2 linked regions of the Homo sapiens genome follow. The protein of the gene in region 2 binds, or shares a complex with, the protein of the main gene of each other region. Each region holds a gene or a part of one and is shown on either strand. Other genes may lie near its edges.

What was found.
Region 1: the proteins of HELB (region 2) and RPA1 are in contact, whole or in part, in a crystal structure (PDB 7XV1), measured with the Homo sapiens proteins. Residues at the interface, in NP_001357214.1 of Homo sapiens: Glu496, Glu499, Val500, Lys502, Ala503, Cys504, Asp506, Phe507, Glu508, Asp510, Asn512, Ala513, Glu516, Trp517, Thr519; in NP_002936.1 of Homo sapiens: Asn29, Ile30, Arg31, Ile33, Arg41, Arg43, Leu44, Leu45, Ser54, Ser55, Met57, Ala59, Thr60, Gln61, Arg81, Ile83, Asn85, Leu87, Arg91, Val93, Ile95, Met97, Glu120.

What each region holds. Positions count from the first base shown.
Region 1 is NC_000017.11:1,879,908-1,891,928, reverse strand, and holds part of RPA1 (replication protein A 70 kDa DNA-binding subunit), read right to left. Parts: intron 11,387-12,021; coding exon 11,238-11,386; intron 8,118-11,237; coding exon 7,985-8,117; intron 3,255-7,984; coding exon 3,078-3,254; intron 97-3,077; coding exon 1-96. UniProt on the Homo sapiens protein: As part of the heterotrimeric replication protein A complex (RPA/RP-A), binds and stabilizes single-stranded DNA intermediates that form during DNA replication or upon DNA stress.
Region 2 is NC_000012.12:66,324,776-66,336,796, reverse strand, and holds part of HELB (DNA helicase B), read right to left. Parts: intron 11,891-12,021; coding exon of another isoform or gene 11,876-11,890; exon of another isoform or gene 11,815-11,875; coding exon 11,671-11,814; exon of another isoform or gene 11,285-11,670; intron 5,644-11,284; coding exon 5,152-5,643; intron 1-5,151.

The sequences.
Region 1 (12,021 bases), on a different chromosome or scaffold from region 2:
TTCCCCAAGATAAGCAGCATTTTGTCCAAGGATAGCTTCAGCAGACTCCTGGAAACAAGTCACCCACTGATTCTCTTGAAAATCTGCAATATTTACCTAAAAAACACAATTCTACATTATTTCAGCAAAGAAATAATAAAAAGACACACTGAGAAGATGGGGAGAGGTTAATGTTCTTTTTCCACTTATTAAAATAATTTCCAGAGAGGGCCAGGTGCAGTGGGCTCATGCCTGTCATCCCAGCACTTTGGGAGGCCAAGGCGGGTGGAACACTTGAGGCCAGGAGTTTGAAACCAGCCTGGCCAACATGGTGAAACTCCGTCTCTACGAAAAATACAAAAATTAGCCAGGCATGGTGGCGGGTGCCTGTAATCCCAGCTACTCAGGAGGCTGAGGCGGGAGAATCACTTGAACCCGGGAGGCGGAGGTTGCAGCGAGCTGAGATCGAGCCACTGCACTCCAGCCTGGGTGACAGAGAGAGGCCCATCAGATTAGTTCCTGTCGAGGTGCAGCTGGCTTTGGATGAAGGGTTTTGAGTGAATCGGGGGAGTTCTCTGCATTTTCAATTGCCCACTCTGTAGTTCCTAGGAGGAGTTCCATGAGACGGCTCTGTCACTGCTGGGCACCCAGACAACTGAAGAGCCTGCCCGTGAGCCTCTGTCAGTCACCAAATTGACCTGGCAAAGGAAATGAGCAATCAAATGTCTCCCACTGGGCTGTGGTGTAACATTAAACAGGGCAAAGTCAAGGAAGAAAGCAGATCTCAAAGAATCCACTTGCTGAAGTAAAAGCCTTTGTAGAAACACGAGTGGTTTTTCTTTAAGGCATCATTTTGACGATTTTACATCTTCATTTTGCATGGGTACAAGGCTTTTAATAGAGAGAATGTTATGACGAAAAATAAGGTGACGAAACCAGTTAAAAGTGAAAAGCGCTCTCAATACACAGCAACGGTATCACACCCTGGGCTCACACTTCCTTTAACCCACGCTATCCTTCTAAGAAGCAAAGAGCATCTCATCACACAGGGCAAGAACTACAATGACGCACACGTGTGATAAATATCAAATCAAACAAGTGTGCGGGAGATTGCGCTGTGGAGTTTAACAGAAAGGCTGATGTTTCCACAAACTAAAACAAATTTTCTTCATCTTAGTTCAATGAAAAGTTTATAGTTTACAAAAAATGAGCCTAAACGTAGAACTGTCCTGCTAAGCTAACATTTCATTTTATTTATCATTTATTAATTTAATTTATTTATTTATTGAGATGGAGTCTTGCTCTGTCACCCAGGCTGGAATGCAGTGGCGCGATCGTGGCTCACTGCAAACTCCACCTCCCGGGTTCATGCCATTCCCCGGCCTCAGCCTCCCTAGTAGCTGGGACTGCAGGTGCCCGCCACCACGCCTGGCTAATTTTTTTGTACTTTTAGTAGAGACAGGGTTTCACTGTGTTAGCCAAGATGATCTCGATCTCCTGACCTCGTGATCCGCCTGCCTCAGCCTCCCAAAGTGCTGGGATTACAGGCGTGAGCCACCGTGCCCGGCCTATTTATTTATTTTTTAAAGACAGGGTCTGACTCTGTCACCCAGGCTGGAGTGCAGTGCCACGATCATGGCTCACTGCAGCCTTGACCTCTCGGGCTCAAGCGATCCTCCTACCTCAGCCTCATGAGTAGCTGGGACAAGTGCATACCACCACAGCCAGCTAATTTTACTTTTTGTAGAGACAGGGTCTTGCCATGTTGCCCAGGCTGATATCGAACTCCCAGCCTCAAGCAATCATCCTGCCTCAGCCTTCCAAAGTGCTGGGGTTACAGGCACAAGTCACTGCGCCTGGCCAATATGAACATTTTTCAGGCTTCTGATATATTACTGCCAAATCATCCTTTGGAAAAATGTGAAACTGTTTTCTTTTTCTCTTTTCTTGAGATGGAGTTTTGCTCTTGTCGCCCGGGCTGGAGTGCAGTGGTGTGATCTCGGCTCACTGCAACCTCTGCCTCCCGGGTTCAAGCGATTCTCCTGCCTCAGCCTCCCGAGTAGCTGGGACTACAGGCACCCGCCACCACGCCCGGCTAATTTTTGTATTTTTAGTAGAGACAGGGTTTCACCATGTTGGCCAGGCTGGTCTCAAACTCCTGATCTCAGGTGACGCACCCGCCTCGGCCTCCCAAAGTGCTGGGATTACAAAAGTGAGCCACTGTGCCCGGCCTTAAACTGTTTTCTTAAACTGCTATTATCGCCTAGTTCTATCATTGAAAACAAAACAAAACAAAATAAAAATCTTAAGGCCGGGTGCAGTGGCTCAGGCTTGTAATGCCAGCACTTTGGAAGGCTGAGGTGGGAGGATGACATGAGGCCAGGAACTTGAGACCAACCTGAACAGCAGAGCGAGACCCTGTCTCTACAATAAAATAATTTTAAAAATTAGCTGGGTGTGGTGGTGCACAGCTGTAGTTGCAGCTACTTGGGAGGCCAAGGTGGAAGGACTGCTTAAGCCCGGGAGGTTGGGGCCACCATGAGCTGTGATGATACCATTGCACTCTATTCTGGGCAACAGAGTGAGACCCCTGTTTCTTAAAAAAAAAAAAAAATTTTTTTAAACCCAACTTTACAACTTTTTTAAAAAGGTTTTTAAAACAGAAAGAAACAATTCTTAAAATGCAAAAAAGCAACAATCTCACATCAGCACACCGTCACATTCCTCTGAAGTCAGCTATACTAAAGCTAGAGAATAGATTATCCACATGAAAGTGACTAAATACGGGCATTGGCTGTGTAAGTACAATTAGTGCTGTCTATAAATGCCGTTTTCAAATTAATTTATCTTCATAGCAGTTAGCAGGCAAGTGTCACTGACGCTATGGCTGTATGACGTGCATGAAAGACTGAATCAGCTGGGGTATCTCAACACCACTTTCTGGCATGAAAAAGCGGATGGATAAGCTCTTCCACACCTACTCATCTGCGGGCTTCCTACCAGGAATGCTTTGTCTCTACTGTTGTGACCACAGTGCCTGGCACACGGGAGGGCCTCCGTGAACACAACCGTGGTTCTCATCTACCGAGGCTACTTACTGACAGGATCATGCGGTACTTGAAATTGGGAAATTCGGTGTCGCACTTCTCACAGCGGTACAATCCATTCTGTTGATCAATCACTTTCTTATTGCAGTCCTGAGTCGGGCAGGCTTGGTACATGCAGTTCTCTTTGCGAAGATACACCACTGTGGCCACAGAACTAAAGTAGTCCGGCTTCGGGAGAAAAGAACAGCATGAGGCACGGAGTCGCGAGCCCGCCCAGGATCGGACCGAGAGGCAGCTCAAAGCCTGCCCTTACGTTTAGGTGGTAAGTGTTTCTACATCCTCAAGATTACACATGATCACAGGGAATCATTCATTCTGTAGTTTTAGAAATCACATGTGCCGAGTACAAAACCCATGAAGGTAATAAGCCAAGTTCTAATAAGCCAAGTTCTGAGGCAGATAATTCCTTCACAATAAAAGAGTTAATCCTAAATTACACTAAGTTAATTAAAAGTGAAATTGTTTTCCTGTTTGCTTGAACACTGTATGAAAGACAAAGATTTGTTCCTCCCGATCCTCTGACCCTCCAAAGGCCACAGATCTAGGAAATACAGAATGCGGACCACAAACACCCAGTGCAGCAACGATCAACCATCCCTCCCGCGCTCAAAACACGGCAGTCGTGTCTAGGCCTAGATTCACCTTTTCCTTGTTTAGGCCAGGGATCAGCAAGCTGCTTCTGTAAAAAGCCAAACAGTAAATATTTCAGGCCTTAGCAGCCATTTGGTCACAGTCTCTGCTGCAACTACAGACACACCTCACTTTATTGTGCTTTGCTTTACTGCACTTGACAGATACGGCATTTTTTACAGATTGAAGACTTGTGGCACCCCTGGGTCAAGTAAATGCACTATTTTCCCAATAGCAGGTGCTCACTTTATGTCTCTGTGTCACATAAAGACAGTAATTCTTGCAAGATTTCAAACTTTTTCATTATATATGTATTTTTTGAGACAGAGTCTCGCTCTGTCGCCCAGGCTGGGGTGCAGTGAGTGGTGTAATCTCTGATCACTGCAGCCTCCACCTCCCAGGTTCAAGTGATTCTCCTGCCTCAGCCACCCAAGTAGCTGGGACTACAGGCGTGCACTACCACGCCTGGCTAATTTTTGTATTTTTTAGTAGAGATGGGGTTTTGCCATGTTGGGTAGGCTGGTCTCGAACTCCAAACCTCAAGTGATCCACCCACCTTGGCCTCCCGAAGTGCTAGGATTATAGGAGTAAGCCACCATGCCTGGCCCTTTTTCATTATTATCATATCTGTTATGGTGATTTTTTTTTTTTTTCTGAGACGGAGTCTCGCTCTGTCACCAGGCTGGAGTGCAGTGGCATGATCTCAGCTCACTGAAATCTCCGCCTCCCAGGGTCAAACGATTCTCCTGCCTCAGCCTCCCGAGAAGCTGGGACTACAGGCATGCACCACTACGCCCAGCTAATTTTTGTATTTTTAGTAGAGACGGGGTTTTAACCACGTTGGTCAGGATGGTCTCGATCTCCTGACTTCAGGTGATCCGCCTGCCTCAGCCTCCCAAAGTGCTGGGATTACAGGAATGAGCCACCGCGCCTGGCCTACAGTGATCTTTAACGTCACTATTGTAGTTGTTCTGGGGTGCCACCAACTACACCCATATAAGATGGGGAACTTATATTGATGAATGTTGTATGTATGCTGACTGATCCTCCAATCAAGTATTCCTGTCTCTCTTCTTTGAATACACAAATAAGAAAGCAAACAGCCTTACTGCTGATATGGAGTAAGCTGTAGTGGTCTAGATAGAATATCAAGCAAGCCACAACATTCTCTTAAGCCAAAGCCTAACCCAGAGCAAGGCCTCACCTTTCTTCAATTCTGTGAAGGCTGAGAGAGGTCAGGAAGCTGCAGAAGAGGCCAGGTGCAGTGGCTCACACCTGTAATCCCAGCACTTTGGGAGGCAGAGGCAACATGATTGCCTAAGCCAAGGAGTTCGATACCAGCCAGGCAACATAGTGAGACCTAGTCTCTACAAAAATCTGTCAGGGCACGGTGGTGTGCACCTGTAGTCCCAGCTACTCCAGAGGCTGAGGTGAGCTGTGATTGCACCACTGCACTCCAGCCTGGGTGACAGAGTGAGACTCTGTCTCAAAAAAAAAAAAAAAAAAAGCTGCAGAAGAAAAGATGGCAGCCAGCAGATGTTGGTTCATGAGGTTTAAGGAAATAAGCCGTCACCATAACAAAAGTGCAAGGTGAAGCAGCAAGTGCTGATGGAGAAGCTGCAGCAAGTTATCCAGAAGATCTAGCTAGGACCACCAATGAAGGTGGCTGCACTCAACAACAGATTTTCAACGTAGACAGAATAGCCTTCTGGAAGAAGATGCCATCAAGAACATTCGTCCTAGAGAGTAGAAATCAATGCCTGGCTTCAAAGCTTCAAAGGAAAGGCTGACTCTCCTGTTAGGCGCGAATGCAGCTGGGGACTATAAGGTGAAGCCAGTGCTCATTGACCATGTCAAAAATCTTAGGGCTCATAAGAACTATGCTAAATCTACTTTGCCTCTGCTTTATAAATAGAATATCAAAGCTTGGATGACAGCATATCTATTTATAGTGTAGTTTATTGAATATTTTAAGCCCACTGTTGAGACCTACTACTCAGAAAAAGAGACTCCTTTAAAAATATGACTGCTCATTGACAATGCACCTGTTCACCCGAGAGCTCAATGGAGACACACAGTACGAGGAGATTAATATATTGACAATGCACCTGTTCACACAAGAGCTCAATGGAGACACACAGTACAAGGAGATTAATATATTGACAATGCACCTGTTCACCCAAGGGCTCAATGGAGACACACAGTACAAGGAGATTAATATATTGACAATGCACCTGTTCACCCGAGGGCTCAATGGAGATGCACAGAACAAGGAGATTAATATTGTTTTCATGCTTGATAACAACATCTATTCTGCAGCCCATGCAAATCAAGGAGTAATTTTGACTTTTTAAGTCTAAGAGACATATTTCATGAGGCGATAGTTGCCACAGTGATTCCTCTGATGGATCTGGGGAAAGTAAATTGAAAACCTGAAAAGGATTCACCATTCTAGATGCTATTAAGAACAGTTGGCTGGGCACAGTCGCTCACACCTGTAACTCCTGGCACTTTGAGAGGTTGAGGCAGGGAGATCCCTTGAGCCCAGGAGTTTGAGAGCAGCCTGGGCAACATGACACAACTCAGTCTCTACAAAAAATACAATTAGCCAGGTGTGGCAGCACCTGTAGTCCCAGCTTGGGAGCCTGGGGAGGTTGAGACTGCAGTGAGCTGTGATCAAGCCAGTGCACTCCAGCCTGAGTGACAGAATGAGACCCTGTCTCAAGTTAAAAAAAAAAGGAACATTCATGATTCATGGGAGGAGATCAAAATCCCAACATCAACGGGAGTTTGGAACAAGTTGATTCCAACCCTCAAGGTAGACACTGAGGCTTCAAGACTTTGGTGGAGGAGGGATCTGTAGATGTGACGAAAATAACGAGAGAACTAGAATTACAAATGGAGCCTGAAAATGGGCCTGAACTGCTGTAATCTCACGATCAAACTTGAACGGATAAGGAGCTGCTCCTTACGATGGGCAAGGAAAGTGCTTTCTTGAGATGAAATCTCTTGTGGTGAGAACGCTGTGAGCATTGTTGAAATGACGACAAAGGATTTAGAATTTGCATAAGCTTGGCTGATAAAGCAGTGACAGGACCTGAGAGGGAGAGACTCCAGTTTGAAAAAGTTCTCCTGTGGGTAAAATGCTGTCAAACAGCATCGCCGGCTATGGAGAAAGCTTTTGTGAAAGGAAGAGTCAACCAATGTGGCACACTTCACTGCTGTCTTATTTTAAGAAACTGCCAAAGACACGCCGATGTTCAGCAACCATCGCCGTGACTGCTCAGCCATCAACCCTGAAACAAACCCCCACCAGCAAGAAGATTACGACTCAGATGATTGTCAGCATTTTTCAGCAATAAAGTTTTTGTTTCAAGAGAAGGGGTCTTCCATGTTGCTCAGTCGAACTCCTGGGCTCATGTAATCCACCTGCCTCAGCCTCCTGGGTAGCTGGGATTACAGAGAACCGAAAGAGTGGGTGTCCCATGACAGGACAACGAGGATCTGTCCAGTGTTTAATTCTTGAGATGTTCTATAAGAGCACTTAAGAGCTGCTGTTGACAATGATGGATAAGGGTATACAGTGAAATGAGACAGGAGGAATGAAACCTACACTGTATATGATGAAAATAAAAGAGCAGGCGTAAAGGAGAAATAAATGATCTAAATACTAAACTGCTGGCAGAACACAGGCTTAGATCAAGATGGGAGGAGGGTCATTAAATACAAACACTGAAAGGAAAAAGCTGCAACTAAAAGTCAAATGTCAGGGCCAATCCTTGTCCGGGAATGCCGGCAGCTCTCAGCCTATGAGGTTAATACACTATTCTACAGCCAGGAACAGCACCCGTGAAACTGCCTCATGTCTGACCTGAGGCGGACTAACGCTCATCTCAAAAAACATCTTTTTGATATGTGGGCGCTTAAATTTGCAGGAAGGATCACAGGAAAGAAACGTGGACCCGAAAGCAGGTGATATTATACCACAAAGCTTGACTGTCACCCCTGCTCCAAGATCCCTCTAGGAATTGACTCTAAGAGTTCTTCAGACTCTCCTGCCTCCAGTCCCCTGAGGGGTAACACATATTCCCATGAGCACACCTGGCTGCTTCCCTCTGCCAGTGATTCTCAACCCCCATGCCACGCTCAGGTCACAGCCCCGGGTAAGAATTACGGCTCTGACAGCTGGTGCTGGAAACCAAGTTTCTAAATCCATCCTTCTGCACACTTTACAGCCCTTTGTGAAGGTGGTTAGGAATGCTGGGTACCTTGTCGCCTTGGCCCAGGTTCTCGGATTTGACCTCATACAAGGTTTTCCAGTTGGTGTTACTCCCTCCGACTCCGCCGCTCTTTAGATCAGAGATGGAAACACCATCTAAGGCTTGTCCTTCTGCGTCAAACCTGAAAACGTGAACGAATAACGATGACGAGCGCTTGATGTGACATGCTTCTGCTTCTCCACATGCAACTTGCTGCTACGCGACAGACACAGGTTTCCCACCACCCGCCCAGCTTTCACACAGGTCACGGTCATGTCGGCTGAAGCTGGTATCTTCGTAATTATATATTTTTTATAATATTTAAATTAAAAAAAATTGTGTCAGAGTTTCACTCTGTCACCCAGGCTGGAGTGCAATGATGCAATCATGGCTCAAGGCAGCTTTGACCCCCTGAGCTCAGTGATCCTCCCACCTTTGCCCTGCTAAGTAACTGGGACTTCCATGCCCAGGCCCATTAAAAAAATTTTTTTTAGGCTGGGCGCAGTGGCTCATGCCTGTAACCCCAGCATTTTGGGAGGATGAGGCGGGCGGATCACGAGGTCAAGAGATCAAGACTATCCTGGCCAACATGGTGAAACCCCGTCTCTACTAAAAATACAAAATTAGCCGGGCGTGGTGGTGGGTGCCTGTAATCCCAGCTACTCGGGAGGCTGAGGCAGGAGAATCACTTGTAGGCAATTCTCAGGAGGCGGAGGTTGCAGTGAGCCGAGATGGCGCCATTGCACTCCAGCCTGGGCAACAAGACCGAAACTCCGTCTCGAAAAAAAAATTTTTTTAAGAGATGGGGTCTTGCTCTGTTGGCCAGGCTGATCTCAAACTCCTGGACTCAGACAATCCTCCTCCCTCGGCCTCCCAAAGTGCTGGGATTACAGGGCGTGAGGCACTGCTCCTGGCCCAAAGTCTACTGAAGAAACGGAATGACCTTTCTTTGAATCTCAGTTGCTTTGATGCCCCCCAGTGGTGAAGAGAATCAGTGCCAAAGTACCAAAGAATCTTTTCTTAAACTAGCCTTGCATATTGGCAGTGGCCAGACCACCCCAGGCCTAAAATCAGAAACTGGGAAAGTCAACAACCCGTAAGCTATAAAGTGGCCGTCTGGGGTAGTCCTTTAATCTGCTAATGCTCATTCTCAGGCAGCAGCTGCGTGGTGATCATCACCGAAATGTACCAGTGTGGAAACGGACAGCCAATATACCGTGGTAGCAAAAGTGTTTCCATAAAAGGCCTCCTATGCCTGATACAGAAGCCAAAAGTGGTTTTTTTGTTTTGAGACAGAGTCTTGCTTTGTCACCCAGGATGGAGTGTGGTGGTACCAACTTGGCTCGCTGCAACCTCCACCTCCTGGCAAGTGATTCTCGTGCCTCAGCCTCCCGAGTAGCTGGGACTACAGGCACGCACCGAGTAGCTGGGACTACAGGCCCGGCTGATTTTTGTATTTTTTGTAGAGACGAGGTTTCACCATGTTGGCCAGGCTGGTCTTGAACTCCTGGCCTCAAGCAATTGTCCACCTCGGCCTCCCAAAGTGCTGGAATTAAGGTATGAGCCACCGTGCCTGGCCCAAAAGATTTTATAAACCAGAGCAACTTATCAGAAGGCATTATCTTTTTTCTTGTAGATTTACCTTCTTAGTGAAATTTTACTTTTGCTAATATCGAAGCTAAATTAATTTGTATTAAATTATTATGAAAACTGATTGTACTTCTTGATCACACATCAATTGATATGAAGGAAAAGGGGCCAAGGAGAAAGTGGCTCGGGAACACAGTGGTGGCGGAGAGGAGCTGGCCGGAGATGAAAGGCCAAATACCATCCCAAGGTGGGTAACCACACAAAGAACAGGTTCCTTAAACAGAGACCATCTAACAGAATGGATGTTACCCTGAGCTGCAGACAGCTGCCTTCTCCTGTCAGGTAAGCGGCTAAATCCCTCACAGGGGCACAGCAAGGCCCATCCATCTGTTTCACCACTACTAGCTACACAAGTTCACGGTTTCAAAAGCTCCAAGGAGACATTTGCCACCAAAGATCACTCGTCAGGAGTCAAGGCGGCCCTTCTTACAATAAAAACTCTGCATTGTTATAGCCAAGATCTAAACATCTCTAATCCTTGTCCAGGTATCATGTATGCACTGAGCTTGTCTTTGATCAATGCCAAGTTATTTTATTCTGGGGACAGCCGTGCTTTTTATGTTGACTGGGATCATGATTATTGACAAGTAAAAGATGAAGACATTAATGTGGGAATGCAATTTTAATGTGGGAATGCGATTTTAATGTGGGAATGCAATTAACCTGGAGTCGAACTCCAGAGCCTAAAAGAAAATCAAGCAATAAGAAAAAAGCAAATCTGTGGCTAGTTCTGGTCAGACTATGAACGGGCCCTGCAGTTCGGCAGATACGTGTGGACCGTACTACTCATGAGGATGGCTCAGTGACATGAACATTCCAGAAGATGCTTCATGAAACTGGTCAAACACCAGTGCCATTGGTTTAAATGACTCAAAACAAAGGAGGAGTATGTAAAATGAGCTCATTCTTTAGCTGCTTAAATCCTAAGACACAGCTGGAAACTGACACACTTCCCCCCCATAGACTACAGCTATGGGAATTATTGAAGCTTGGGTGAAAGTGTTTTCCCTGACCACATCAATTCTTGCATCCTGTGTCTCAGTTTGAAGTACTCTTTTAAGACAGAGTTTGAATGTCCTAAAAAGCTAGATACAGTGAGGAGATTTTAACAGGCTCTCCTCATCCCTTGAGTGCTTTGGGAATAACAATCTAATCCTAACAAAAAGCCCATTGTTCTCACCACACTTGATCAGAGTCTAGTGAATACACACTAGAAGATGTGATCGGCACCAAAGACTTGACAGAGAAAGAAAGCATGTGTTCCCCCACGCCACAGAGGCCCAGAGCCTAAACCCTGGAAAGAAAGGCGCCTTCAGCACACCGCTGCTGAAGCCTGGCCGTCCCCTCCTTTGGCAGGATCGAGGTCAGCAGGCAGCACTTACATGCTAATTGCCTCCTCCGACTCTCTAGGTTTGTCCTGGGATTACAGGTTTGTCCGTTTAAGGGCTTTAAAGCCCTCCTCACAGAAGGCATAATGCCTTCAAGAAACACGGAAGCTGCACCACTCAGGGACGAAGGCTTCTGCTTGGCAGAAAGCTCCCATGCTGATTGTAACCAGCTTTTCTCAAAGCCCAGCCTCAAGTAACCCTTTGTTTAGCCCCACAAAACCTACCATCCACGAAGCTTATAGGCCTCTGGGATGTCAGGATTCGCAATGATAGTGCTTGAAGACAGCACGGAGAGGCTCCGTCCACCGAAATCAGAGACTCGGGCTCCTTTGATAGCCAACACGGGCTGTCTAGAACCATCAAATTTATCAGCCTGTAAAAGAAACACCAGACATATACAAGTGTCACTAGCAGGAAGAACACAGAAGATTTTTATAGAAAACAAGGCAAACATTCAATAGTAGAGTGAATGTAATCAGCGTACATGGAATCCATACAAGACAGACCTCACACATGAGAATCTACTCAGAGACACATCAAAACTATCACTGCTTTCCTAGAGTTAGGGGAAAGAGCATTTCCCCGCGTAAAGCTTGAATCACAGCAAATCTCACAGAAGTAAGATAAAGGATTTTAAATACTTACCAGACAGCACAATCCTTCCCATCTACATGGTGAAAGCCCCCAACTCATAGGACAAAACCGCCCCCACGAGGAGCTCCTCCTGTGTGTGCTAACAGCCCCATCCTATAGGACAAGACGCCCCCTCCGCCAACCCCAGGAGCTCCTCCTGTGTGTGCTGAAGGCCCCATCCTATAGGACAAGACCCCTCCCTCCCCCAACCCCAGGAGCTCCTCCTGTGTGTGCTGAAGGCCCCATCCTATAGGAACAGACGCCCCCTCCGCCAGCTCCAGGAGCTCCTCCTGTGTGTGCTGAAGGCCCCATCCTATAGGACAAGACCCCTCCCTCCCTCAACTCCAGGAGCTCCTCCTGTGTGTGCTGAAGGCC
Region 2 (12,021 bases):
CCTGTGTCCATCCTCCCTGCCAGTTCCTGTGTCTGCAGCCCATCCTCTCACTGTGCCCTGTGCTCCAGCCATGCTGTTCTACATCTGTAGTCTCCTAATGTGCCAGGACTCCACACACCGTGCCCTGTGTCAGACCGACTCCTAGAGAACGTTTTCCCTGTGCCATATCCATATGGGGACAGAGGATATAAGTATTCCCCATTTACAACTCAGCCTGGTTCTGGCAGGTTACACCAGCACTTTCTCCCCTGGGTTCCCCCTGTGGCCCCTTCTTACCTTTATTACAGCCTTGGAAGCTTAAAGACTCAACTGAACAAGTCTGCTGCCAGCACTTAAAGCAATTCTTACACTTCTATTAGAACCACATTTGGAAATTACTTATAATCCCACCTTTTTTTTTCTTTTTAACACAAAATCCATTACCCAAATTGGATCCTCTAACTCATAAAACCAGAAAGCAAATGCCTTTGGGTTATTTCCTAAACTCAGAATAGGTCTCAACAGAAGTTTGCTTCCCTTATAAACATTCAAAAGGATCTTTTACTGCCTCAAAAGCAATTCCAAAAGGAACTGTCAAACTAAAGGAGGGGCACTAGAAGAATAAAAGTATGACTTTCAGTACAACCTGAAAGAACAATATTCTGAATGTCTGATTTTTTAAAAAAAAGTTTCATCGCCATATATTCATGACTCATATTTTGATCACTAAGTATTTTTGAGGTATTACCATGTGAACAGCAATTGTACCAAATGTTCTAGCAGATCAAAAATGATACACTGTCCTCAAGAAGCTTTATTTACAGAGTCAAACAAGGTTACTACAGGTGCAGTACAGAAGGGGTGTGTGCCCTCCTACAGGAGTTCAGAGAAAAAGAAGCCTTCAGGAACAACACAGAAACTGAGCTGGATTATAATAAGAAGAGAGAGAGGATGGCATGAGGTGATCAGCTTGGAACTGCTTTATCTTCCCTCTGCTATATATACCCAACGTACTACACCCATTCCTTCTGGTTGTCATGGAAAAAGGGTCCTCTGTCCCTAATCCTGTCTCAGGGCAACCCCTCTAGTTATTCTCTTGATTTTTCCCATCTTACCCACGTCAGGACTCCAATTCTGCAATTATCCTCTCTCCCTGAATCATGAATTTCTGGTTCTCCATTGGACCATTCTAGCAACACACTAAGATGCCTTAATGTACCCATCCAAAGTAAACAAACCAATAAAGTTTTCCTTGACCACAAGTCCTCTATTCAGATACAACCACCTTTCCTTCTTTTTTCAGCAGCCCTCTTCAAAACCTGCCTCCACTGCTTCCTCCGCCCTTTCAGCTCCCATTCTCTCACCAGCCCCCTCAGTCCAGGCTTTTATTCCCTCCCCACAGCCCTGGTTTTCCTTCTATCTCACTCACACTCCTTTTTAGTTCCTCCTCCTCTGCCAGATCTCTAAAAGCTGGGAATACCCCAGAATTCTGTCATCAGGCCCCCTCCTCTATCTGCAGTCTCTCCTGAAATTAACTCACCTAGTCCTTGCAATATCACTACATGCCAATGATTCCCAAGTGGGCCTTTCCTACCCTACTCCCTGCTGAGGCTCTAAACTCCTCTACCAACCACGGACTTACTCAACAAGTCCAGGTACATTTCCAATTAGTAACTTAAACAACAGCACGCCACAAGAGAACGCTTTATTTCCCCAAACGAGTTCTCCTCACATCTTTCCCATCTCAGGAAATGGCACTGCTATTCCCCAAATTGCTTTAGCCAGAAATCCAGGAATCATCCTGGATTACTTTCTCTTTTACCTCATCACATCTAATCAGAAAGTTATACAGACTCCATCTCCAAAATGCATCCACACTCCAACCACAGATTACCAGCCCCACTCTTTCACTAGGCTCTCCCCATGATGACCTCCTACTGGTCTCCTCACTTCCCCTTCACTTTCCACAGTTCCCTCTCCACAGAAGCCAGAGGGATTGTTTATTTTGTATGTATGTATTTATTTATTTATTTATTTTTGAGACAGGGTCTCATTCTGTCGCCCAGGCTGGAATGCAGTGGCACCATCACAGCTCACTGCAGCCTCAACCTCCTGGGGTCAGGTGATCCTCCCACCTCAGTCTCCTAAGCAGCTAAGACAACAGGCACCCAGCACCACCCCCAGCTAATTTTTGTTTGCATTTTTGGTAGAGATGGGGTTTCGCCATGTTGCTCAGGCTGGTCTTGAACTTCTGGGCTCAAGTGATCCGCCCACCTTGGCCTCCCAAAGAGCTAGGATTACAGGTGTGAGCCACTGTGCCTAGCCTTGCTTTTTTTTTTTTTTTTTCTTTTTTTTTGAGACAGGGTTTTGGTCTGTCACCCAGGCTGGAATGGGACGTCACAATCACAGCTCACTATAGCCTGGAACTCCTGAGATGAAGCAATCCTCCTACCTTAGCTTCCTGGGTAGCTGGGACTACAGATATGCACTACCAAGTTCAGCTAATTTTTTACTATTTTTGTAGAGATGGAATCTCACTATATTGCCCAGGTTAGTCTCAAACTCCTGGGCTCAAGCGATCCTCCTGCCTGGCTCCTGAAGGTGTTGGAATTACAAGTGTGAGCCACCACACCCAGCAGGGATTGTGGTTTTGTTTTTGAGACAGGCTCTTGCTCTGTCACCCAGGCTGGAGTACCATGATGCAATCACAGCTTACTGCAGCCTCGACCTCTCAGTCTCAAGTGATCCTCCTGCCTCAGCCTCCCGCGTAGCTGGGACTATAGGTGCATGCCACCATGCCCAGTTAACTTTTGTATTTTTAGTAGAGATGGGGGTTCACCATATTACCCAGGCTGGTCTCAAACTCCTGGGCTCAGGCGATTCTCTCACCTCCGCCTCCCAAAGTGCTGGGATTACAGGTATGAGCCACCATGCTGGGACTATGTTTAAGCAGGCATCAGATGATATTACACCACTGCTTCCAGCCCTCAAATGAATTCCCACTGCAAGCAGAATAAAATCCCAACTCATTCCCGTGGCCCTGCCCATCTCTCCAACACCAGCACCTGCACCCTCTTCCTCGCTCACTAGCCACCTTAGCCAACCTTCCTCTGTTTTGTTTTGTTTTGTTTTTGAGATAGAGTTTTGCTCTTGTTGCCCATGCTGGAGTGCAGTGGTGCAATCTCGGCTTACTGCAACCTCTACCTCCTGGGTTCAAGCGACTCCTCCCTCAGCCTCTCGAGTAGCGGGGATTACAGGTGACTGCCACCATGCCTGGCTAATTTTTTGTATTTTTAGTAGAGAAGGGGTTTCACCATGTTGGCCAGGCTGGTCTCAAACTCCTGATTTCAGGTGATCCACCCGCCTCAGCCTCCCAAAGTGCTGGGATTACAGGCATGAGCACTGCACTAGGCCAACCTGCCTTCCTCTTTGAATAAAATCATTCCCTTTCCAGGCTTTGCATTATCTACATCCTCAGAGGCCCCCATGCTGCTCCTTGGTAACATTCAGTGCTCAGCTCACATGTCACCTTTTTAGGGAGGCATGACCTGGTCAAAATAGCACCTCCTGCCCACCACACCCCCTGCCATTCCCTATGTCCTTGCCTTGTTTTTCATCCTCATAGACTCTTAATCTGAAATTTGATTTTCTCTTGTATTTATTGCCTATGCTGGAATATAATGTCCACAAAGCCGGCACTGGTGCGCTTTCCTCCCTTAACATTTAGATCAGTGACTGGCAGGTTTTTATTTTTATTTTTTCAATGTTTTGCTAAATGTTTTTTTCAAATGCTGAATGAGAAGGAGACAGAAAAAGGCATTCAAGATGAGGGACACAGCAAGAGTCAAAAGGAGGATGAAAAAGTTTGATTCATTTTAGTGAGTTGAAGACACTAGCTTGACAAAAGCAGAAAAAGCATAGTGGGAAATGAAATGATGTTGAGAAAACTGGAATCAAATTGAGAAAGGTCTCAAATGCCAAGCTAAATAGTCTAGAATTTATGTTGTAGGCACCTGGGAGTCTCTGAAGCTTTTGAACAAAGAAGTGAATCTTAACGGACACCTGAAGCCTTGAATACTACCAGACCCAAATGTATTGGTTTTTCCTATACATACATACCTATAAAAAAGGTTAATGTATAAATAGGCACAGTAAAAAGTTAGCAACAATAACATAAAAAATAAAGCAATTCAGTAAAATAAGGATCACTTGACACAAGCACTGCAACACTGAGACTTACTCCGATAACTAAGATGGTGGCAAGTGACTAACAGGTGGGGAGTGTCCACAGTGTGGACACACTGGACAAAGGGAGGATTCATGGAATGAGATGGTGTGAGATTTTATCACACTGCCCAGAATGGCATGCAATTTAAAATTGACGAATTGTTTATTTCTGGAATTTTCCATTTAATATTTTTGGACCACGGTTGACCATGGGTAACTGAAACCTTGGAAAGCAAAACCATGGAAAAGGGGGAATGCTACATTACGAGAATGGGAACAAGAAAGGGGAGGGCAGCCAGGTCACCAATCATCCAAGAAGATGGTAGAGAGTGAAAGGAAGGCGAGTCCATGGTGATTCTAAGACTTTAAGCCATGTAACTAGGAAGATGGTGATTGAAATGGAGAAATTGGAAAAGAGAGTAAGATTCTGGGCTGTGGTTCCAGAAAATCAATTTCTGGGAACAAAGATGCAGATTAGGCAGCTGGTTCATTAACTCCTCTTCAGTGCCAGAGCACTCAGCAAATCACCACATTACTGATAGCCGACTGTCTCCACCATGACAATCAGTGTGAGAGTGAGAACTGTCACTCACTTATCTCTAATTCCTGGTGCCTGAAATGTTACTATAGTCAAAACTTTGTTAGCCAAATCACTGGTGCCAAGGAGATGGCTGAAACTGTGAGAATGAGTCAGTTCTCAAAGGAAAAAAGAACTGAGCTTTGGGGAGTTGTCTTCAGTTAGAGGCTGGGAAGGAGAAAAGGAGTGAGGAAATGAAGGGGAAATCAGACAGTGAGGTAAGGGAAATTTGACAGAAATGAGAAAAACAATTGTTTTTAAGTCCAACAGCACAATGCAACACTAATAAAAGCACACAGTCATTTATAAGCACACCGAAGTTAGCGATATTTAAATAAAACTTGGGAACATGGAAACATCACTCCTACCATAAAAATTTTGCTTGGACTTTCATCATCATTCACACCACAGGTTCTTTTGGATGCTCGCGATTTTGGTAAATCATCATCTGTATCTACTCCATCAGGTGAAGATAATTGCCATCTTTCAGCAAAGGTGAGTGTCCTCTCATCAGGCGAAGAGGCCTCGCTCCAGGTGACATCATTTGTCATGGCGTGGTCTGTGACTACAGGGAGTGGAGATGCTGACGGTGTGCTGGGTCCTCCACTGTCTCCAGAGCTCTTCCGTGGGGACGGAAAATCTGCTGGAGGTGCGCCGCTAGAGGAGAGCTTACTTTGCAAGAAATGTTTCAAACGAGTTTTTCTAGGAAAACTGTTTTTCATAATGGCATTCCGGAGCTGAGACTCCTCTGCAATCACATACACTCGGCAGCGGCCCCTGGTCACGGCGGTGTAGACATGCTGCCAGTGCTGGCGGCCCGCCTTCCCCACCACATAGACAACTGTTTGCTCCTCGGACCCCTGGCAGGAAAAATATGGTGTGAAGACTAAATGCTATAAAATAGGTTCAGACAGTTTACAGACAAGGAAAGGAGACAAGTGTTCAAAGTGCTCTCAAGCACTTCTACCTGGCCAGACTATTATTATGTGTCCATTTTATGGGTTCCATTTTTATTCATCCTCCAAGAACTCTAAACACACTGCTAAACATGCTGCTAAGTTCAGGTTTCATAGGTCCACAACTGGCTTGTAGAAACCCAGCAGCAAATTTTAAAGACTGCATGCAGTATTAAACCTTTCCTAATAAAAGACTGAAATGATGGTACAGGCTTCATGTGTAAATGTGTTAACCCATTATTACATATAATGGCAAAATATGAAAACTTTAAGTAGCCAGTAATAGGTAAACATATAGATATATTATATATAAATATATGTATAAAAATATTACATGTAATGATAAAATATAGAAATTTTAAGTAGCAATAGGTGAATATATATTATATACTTATATATATAATATATACACAGTTGACATACTATTTTGTGAACATCAGAGATACTTTAAAGCCACATTTTAAAAACCATATATATATCTATATATATATATAGACAGATAGATAGATACACACACACATAGAGAATGGTCAAAACTGTATAGCAATATAGTTACTCTGATCCAAAACAAGTATATAAAAAAAGAACATAGCTATGTACAATGAAACAAAACAAATCACAAAAAAAGAGAGAAATTCTACCAAATTTTTTATTAATGTCTCCAAATGGAAGGCCTATGGATGACTTTTTTTTCTCCTACTTGTCTGTATTTTTCCATTGTTGGGCAATTTATTTCTTTTATCAAGATAAAAAAGAAAACAATGAACCTTTGTCTTTTAACAAAAAATTGGATAGGCAAGAAAAATACTCAATATCACCGTGTAACTGTAAGAAAACAATTTCAAGTTTGAGGGCTATTCTTAGTCCTATATTCTGAGTCAGCGGATCCAGTGCCAACACAGACAAAGAAGTGGTTTGTACCATTATCTCCCCCATTGCTCTGACATTGCTCCTGCCAAAGGAAAAATTGTGGGAAGACAACTGACAAGATGGGGCAAGTAAAAAATACACATCCGCTGCAAATAAACTCTTGCTCAGCAAGCTCTTCTATCTTCGTAGACAGAGAGTTTGAAGCAGCTCCTCAGATTGTAAAAGTTTGATAAATACATCTTTCCGATGTTGCTGGGTCTCAGAAATTGACATAAATGGTATTTGATTACATACATTTCCACAGATATATGGCACCACTCTTCACCTTGGACTTTATATTGTACATTCTCAAATATGAAAATGTCTACCTAAACTCAGCTAACCTAGTTCTTAATTATTAAGCAACACTGAGAAAAATATAGTAATAATAGTAGATATACTATTATTAATACTTAATGGTCTCATTATCAGTCTCCCTGTACCTTCTCTTGCCCAATCCATCATCCTCATGGCAGCCACAGTGATATTTGTAAAATGCAAACCCAATCATATTAGATGCTGCTTAAAACCTCTAATGGCTCGCAGGGACTCCAAATAAAGTCCTAACCCCTTAATGTGTTTGTAAAGCCCTTCAAGAGCCAGCTTGGCCCTGCTCCTCTCCTTACTTTTTTCCCTTTCTTTTCCATGAACCATGCTCCACCCAGCACAAGGGACTTCCAGGTCCTGTCAGCATTCCTCAGTCCATGGCCTCAATTTGGCCCATGTCTGGAGTAGCCGCCCCATCTATTACTCTCCAGCACCCTGTACTTCCTCTATCACAGGCTGGAAGCTCCATGAAGGCAGAGCTTCACCTTTATCCTACTCACTGTTCTTTCTCCAGTGCCTCACTGAGTGAATGATGATTAAAAATTAAAATGTCATGCTACAGGAGCCAAATATCTGCTGTCCCTGGAATTCTGCACTCCAAGATGGTACTTAAGTCTACCTCAGAAAGTAAGACACCTAACTTCACCTTGATAACCTGCTATAAATAATTTCCTCATTGCTTTAAATCTCCCTTGAAAATCAGAACTGTCAAACTGCTTAAGGAAGTAAGTTTCCTATATTTACTTTTAATTATGTATATGTCTATTCTATAAATTGGTTCTACAACTCAACCACTTGTATGAAGAGCCACAAAATCTTCAACAGCTCCCCATTTCACTCAGGTAAAAGCCAAAGTCCTTAAAATAGTCTAGAACAGCACTGTCCAATACAAATATAAAATAAGTCATATATGCAGCTTAAAATTTTCTAGTAGTCTCATTAAAAAAGAAATGGATAGAATTAATGTTAATAATATACCTGTATTTTACTTAAGCTAACATATCCAAAATATCATCATTTTAACATATAATCAATATTAAGTTATTAATAAAAGACTACATCTTTGAAATTCTATATTTTATACAACCAGAACATTTCAATTTAGATACTAAATTTTCATCAGAAATACTTAATCTATTTCTAGAGTTCATAAAATTTGTAGTTGAAAAAGAAGATTCACATACCCAAGTTATTCCAAACATAGTTTTTCCAACATACAGAAGTTTTCCAATGACTGTATCTAGTAACTTTTGTTTTGTTTATTTGTTTTTGTTTTTGAGAGAGGGTCTCACTCTGTCACCCGGGCTAGGAGCTCACTGCAGCCTCCAGCTCCCAGACTCTGGAAATCCTCCCACCTCAGACCCCCGAGTAGCTGGGACCATGGGTGCATGCCACCATGTCTGGCTACTGTTTTGTATTTTTTGTAGAGATGGGGTTTCACTATGTTGCCCAGGCTGGTCTTGAACTCCTGGGCTCAATTGACCTGCCCACCTCAGCCTCCCAAAGTACTGGGATTACAGGTGTGAGACACTGTGCCCAGCCTAGTATCCATTTTTAAAATTAAAATTTAGTTTTTCAGTCACTCTAGCCACATTTCCAGCGCTCAATAGCTACACGTGGCTAGTGGCTAACATACTGGATAGTGCAGGCCTTCAAATGCCCTAGGAGGTGACCTGGCCCCACCATCCTCCTGCCCTCTTTACCTCATATTAATTTTCCTGTCTCATTTCCTGTCAGTCTCCCACAGTGGCCACCTTGCTATTCCTGCTTCTCAACTATACCAGACAGACTCTCACCTTAGAACCCTGCCCTTGGTTATTCCTCAACCTGGAATGCTCCTGTCCCAGATACTCACATGACTAACTTCTTTTCCTTCTTCAAATCTTTGGATAAAATGTTATCTTCTCAATGAGGCTTATATCGACATTCTATTTAAAATCACAATTGCACCCACTCCCACCTCTTTTCCACAGGATTTGCCACCTTCTAACATAACACAGAGTTTTCTTTCTTGTTTTTATTTTTTTTATTTTTATGACTGTGTCTGTCTCTATCCCCTTTCCCACCAAATTTAAGCTTCACAATGGCAAGAATCTTTGTCTGTTTTATAGACTGACCTGTACCAAACACCAAGAACAGAGTCTCACTCAGTAAGTATTTGTTGAACGGAATTGAACTTGGAAGAAACAGTGTGTTGATATAACAATCATGAATGTTCTTAGAGCTAAGAGATGCTACTTCAACCATGAAATAACCAGAAAGATATCTACTCCAACCTCAACCCAGTAATAATAAAGACACCTTTACTCTTCATTCGTTCTTATTAAAAAAAACTGGATTATAAATTTAAGGAAATCTCTCAGAAAATAGAGCAAAGTGATGAGAAGGAAAATAAGACAGTTTGATAAGAAATTTAGGTAACTACTTCTGGAAGTCTAATATGCACATATTAGGAATTCTAGAGAGACAGAACAGAGGAAACTGAGAAAAAGAAAATTTCGTAAAGGTGAAGGATGGCATCATAGAGATCCACGGAAGAAATTCTTCAGGACCCAGAGCCAGAAATATTACACTTTTACTCTCACTTTACCTGGGGAACTTTGGTCTTAAGGGAACTTAAAGCCAAATCTGCAATCGACATTAGCAAACAGGGAAGCGGGCATGGCTGCATTCCAACCACCCCTGGCAAGAACCATTTTATCATCCTTATTTTTCACTTGACATCCTTTCTATATAAACATATATATATATATATTTTTTTTTTTTTTTTTTTTTTTTTTTTTTTTGAGATGAAGTCTCCCTCTGTTGCCCAGGCTGGAGTGCAGTGGCACAATCTCAGCTTGCTGCAACCTCTGCCTCCCAGGATCAAGTGATTCTCATGCCTCAGCCTCTCAAGTAGCTGGGTTTAGAGGTGCCCACCACCATGCCCAGTTACCTTTTTTGTATTTTTTAGTAGAGATGGGGTTTTACCATGTTGGCCAGGGTTGGTCTTGAACTCCTGACTGCAAGTGATCCACCTACCTCGGCCTCCCAAAGTGCTGGGATTACAAGCGTGAGCCACCACACCAGACCCTTTTTTACCTTTAAAAAAAAAAAATCAGCTGAATTGTGGGCATTTTTAATAAGCCATTTCAAATTCTTTTTGGAATCGAGATGGGGTAAGTTAATAAATAAAGCCCCACCCACTTAAAAAAGAAAACAAAACTCTATGCTAATTAATGTTTGTTTACTAGTAGAAAATTTGGGCTGACCTAAATTTTTCTGCATAAAAATGAGGGTTGGGCCGGGTGCAGTGGCTCAGGCCTGTAATCCCAGCACTTTGGGAGGCCGAGATGGGCAGATCACAAGGTCAGGAGTTCGAGACCAGCCTGACCAACATGGTGAAACCCCGTCTCTACTAAGAATACAGAAATTAGCCAGGCGTGGTGGCATGTGCCTGTAATCCCAGCTACTCGGGAAGCTGAGGCAGGAGAATCACTTGAACCTGGGAGGCGGAACTTACAGTGAGCCAAGATCGCGCCACTGCACTCCAGCCTGGGCGACACAGCGAGACTGTCTCAAAAAAAAAAATGAAGGTTGATGCAACCTCTCCATTAAAGCAACATACCAACAGCAGAGAAGGAAGCTCAAAACAAAGAGATAAATAAGAGACTCACTAATAACAGATGAGAATTCAAGGGCATTAAAATAAAGCATAAAGGCAAGTTGCACTAAACTCAATATGCTGTCCTAGAACAGCAAAAGGACATTAATGGAAAAACTGGTGCAATTCGAATATGCATAGTTTAGTTAGCAGTCTTACAGCAATAGTAATTTCTTAGTTTTGACAAATATGCCATAGTTATAAAATGTTAAACACCAAGGAAAGCTGGGTGAAAGGTATATGAAAACTCTCTGTAGTATCATTCCAACTCTTCTGTAAACCTAACAATATTCCCACATAAGTTGGGGGCGGGGGGATAAAAGGTTGCCTCACAAAGATGGAGAGAGAGGATACATTTGTCAAAACTCAACCAACTTTATAATGAAACTGTATGCACATTATACCCCACAAAGTTGATAAGGCAAAAAATAAAAAATAAAAGCTAGTTGCAAAAGTATAGAAACATGATTACACCATTTACATAAGCCTCAGTAACACAGAAAACAATCATATATATTGCTTCTACATGAATAGGAGTGATATATACCAAATTCGGGGCAGAAGTCACTTTGGAGGAAGGCGGGAGGCAGACCCAGGACTAGGGCAAGGCAAGTGAGGAACTCACCTCCAGTACAAAATTTAATGGGTTCCCAAGAAACTCAGCAATCAAGATAAATCAAGACATTTTAATGTAACAGTTTTGTAAATCAAAATTAAGGCACAAAAGGATCCATGATGAACAAAATATCAGAATTTAACCAAAGATAAGATGAGTACAGTGCCATGCCAAGCCATACTGGAGACTCAGGCAGGGAGGGGAAGACCTGAAGGAGGAGACTTTACCTATAATGCCTTTGTTTCTAAAAATAAAGAGAGCTCTGGAGCAAAAAAGAGCAAAAGGGTGGCGTCTTCTCTATTATGTTCTGTACTTTTGTGTATTTTGTTTCCTAATTTTTGTTTGCTAATAAGTGCAACAAAAATTTACGAAAACAATGCAAGGCGCTCTAAGGTTGGTAAATTATTTAAAAGGTTTGATAAAAGTCTCCTCTTACCTGAAAAGTGTGAATAGTTCTTGCCCATGCATGTTTTATGCGACAATATTTCATTAGTTTCTTAAAATCCACAGTTACTTCCAGGCCAGCCATATTATTAATGGTCAAAGATCTTCTCTTTCCAAAAGTTACATCAGTTACATCCTGTCACCAAACCAAAGAACTATTTTGCATACCTTCAAATATGTTCTACGTTCAAATACGTTCAAAGATATTCTATCTTTGGGTCAAACATAAAATATAAGAATTACAATTACCATTAAGAATTTCAAAAGGCTTAAAATTTGCATTTCAGCACAAACAATATATCTATACCTAAATATTTTAATAAACACAAATAGAAGTTTTCAG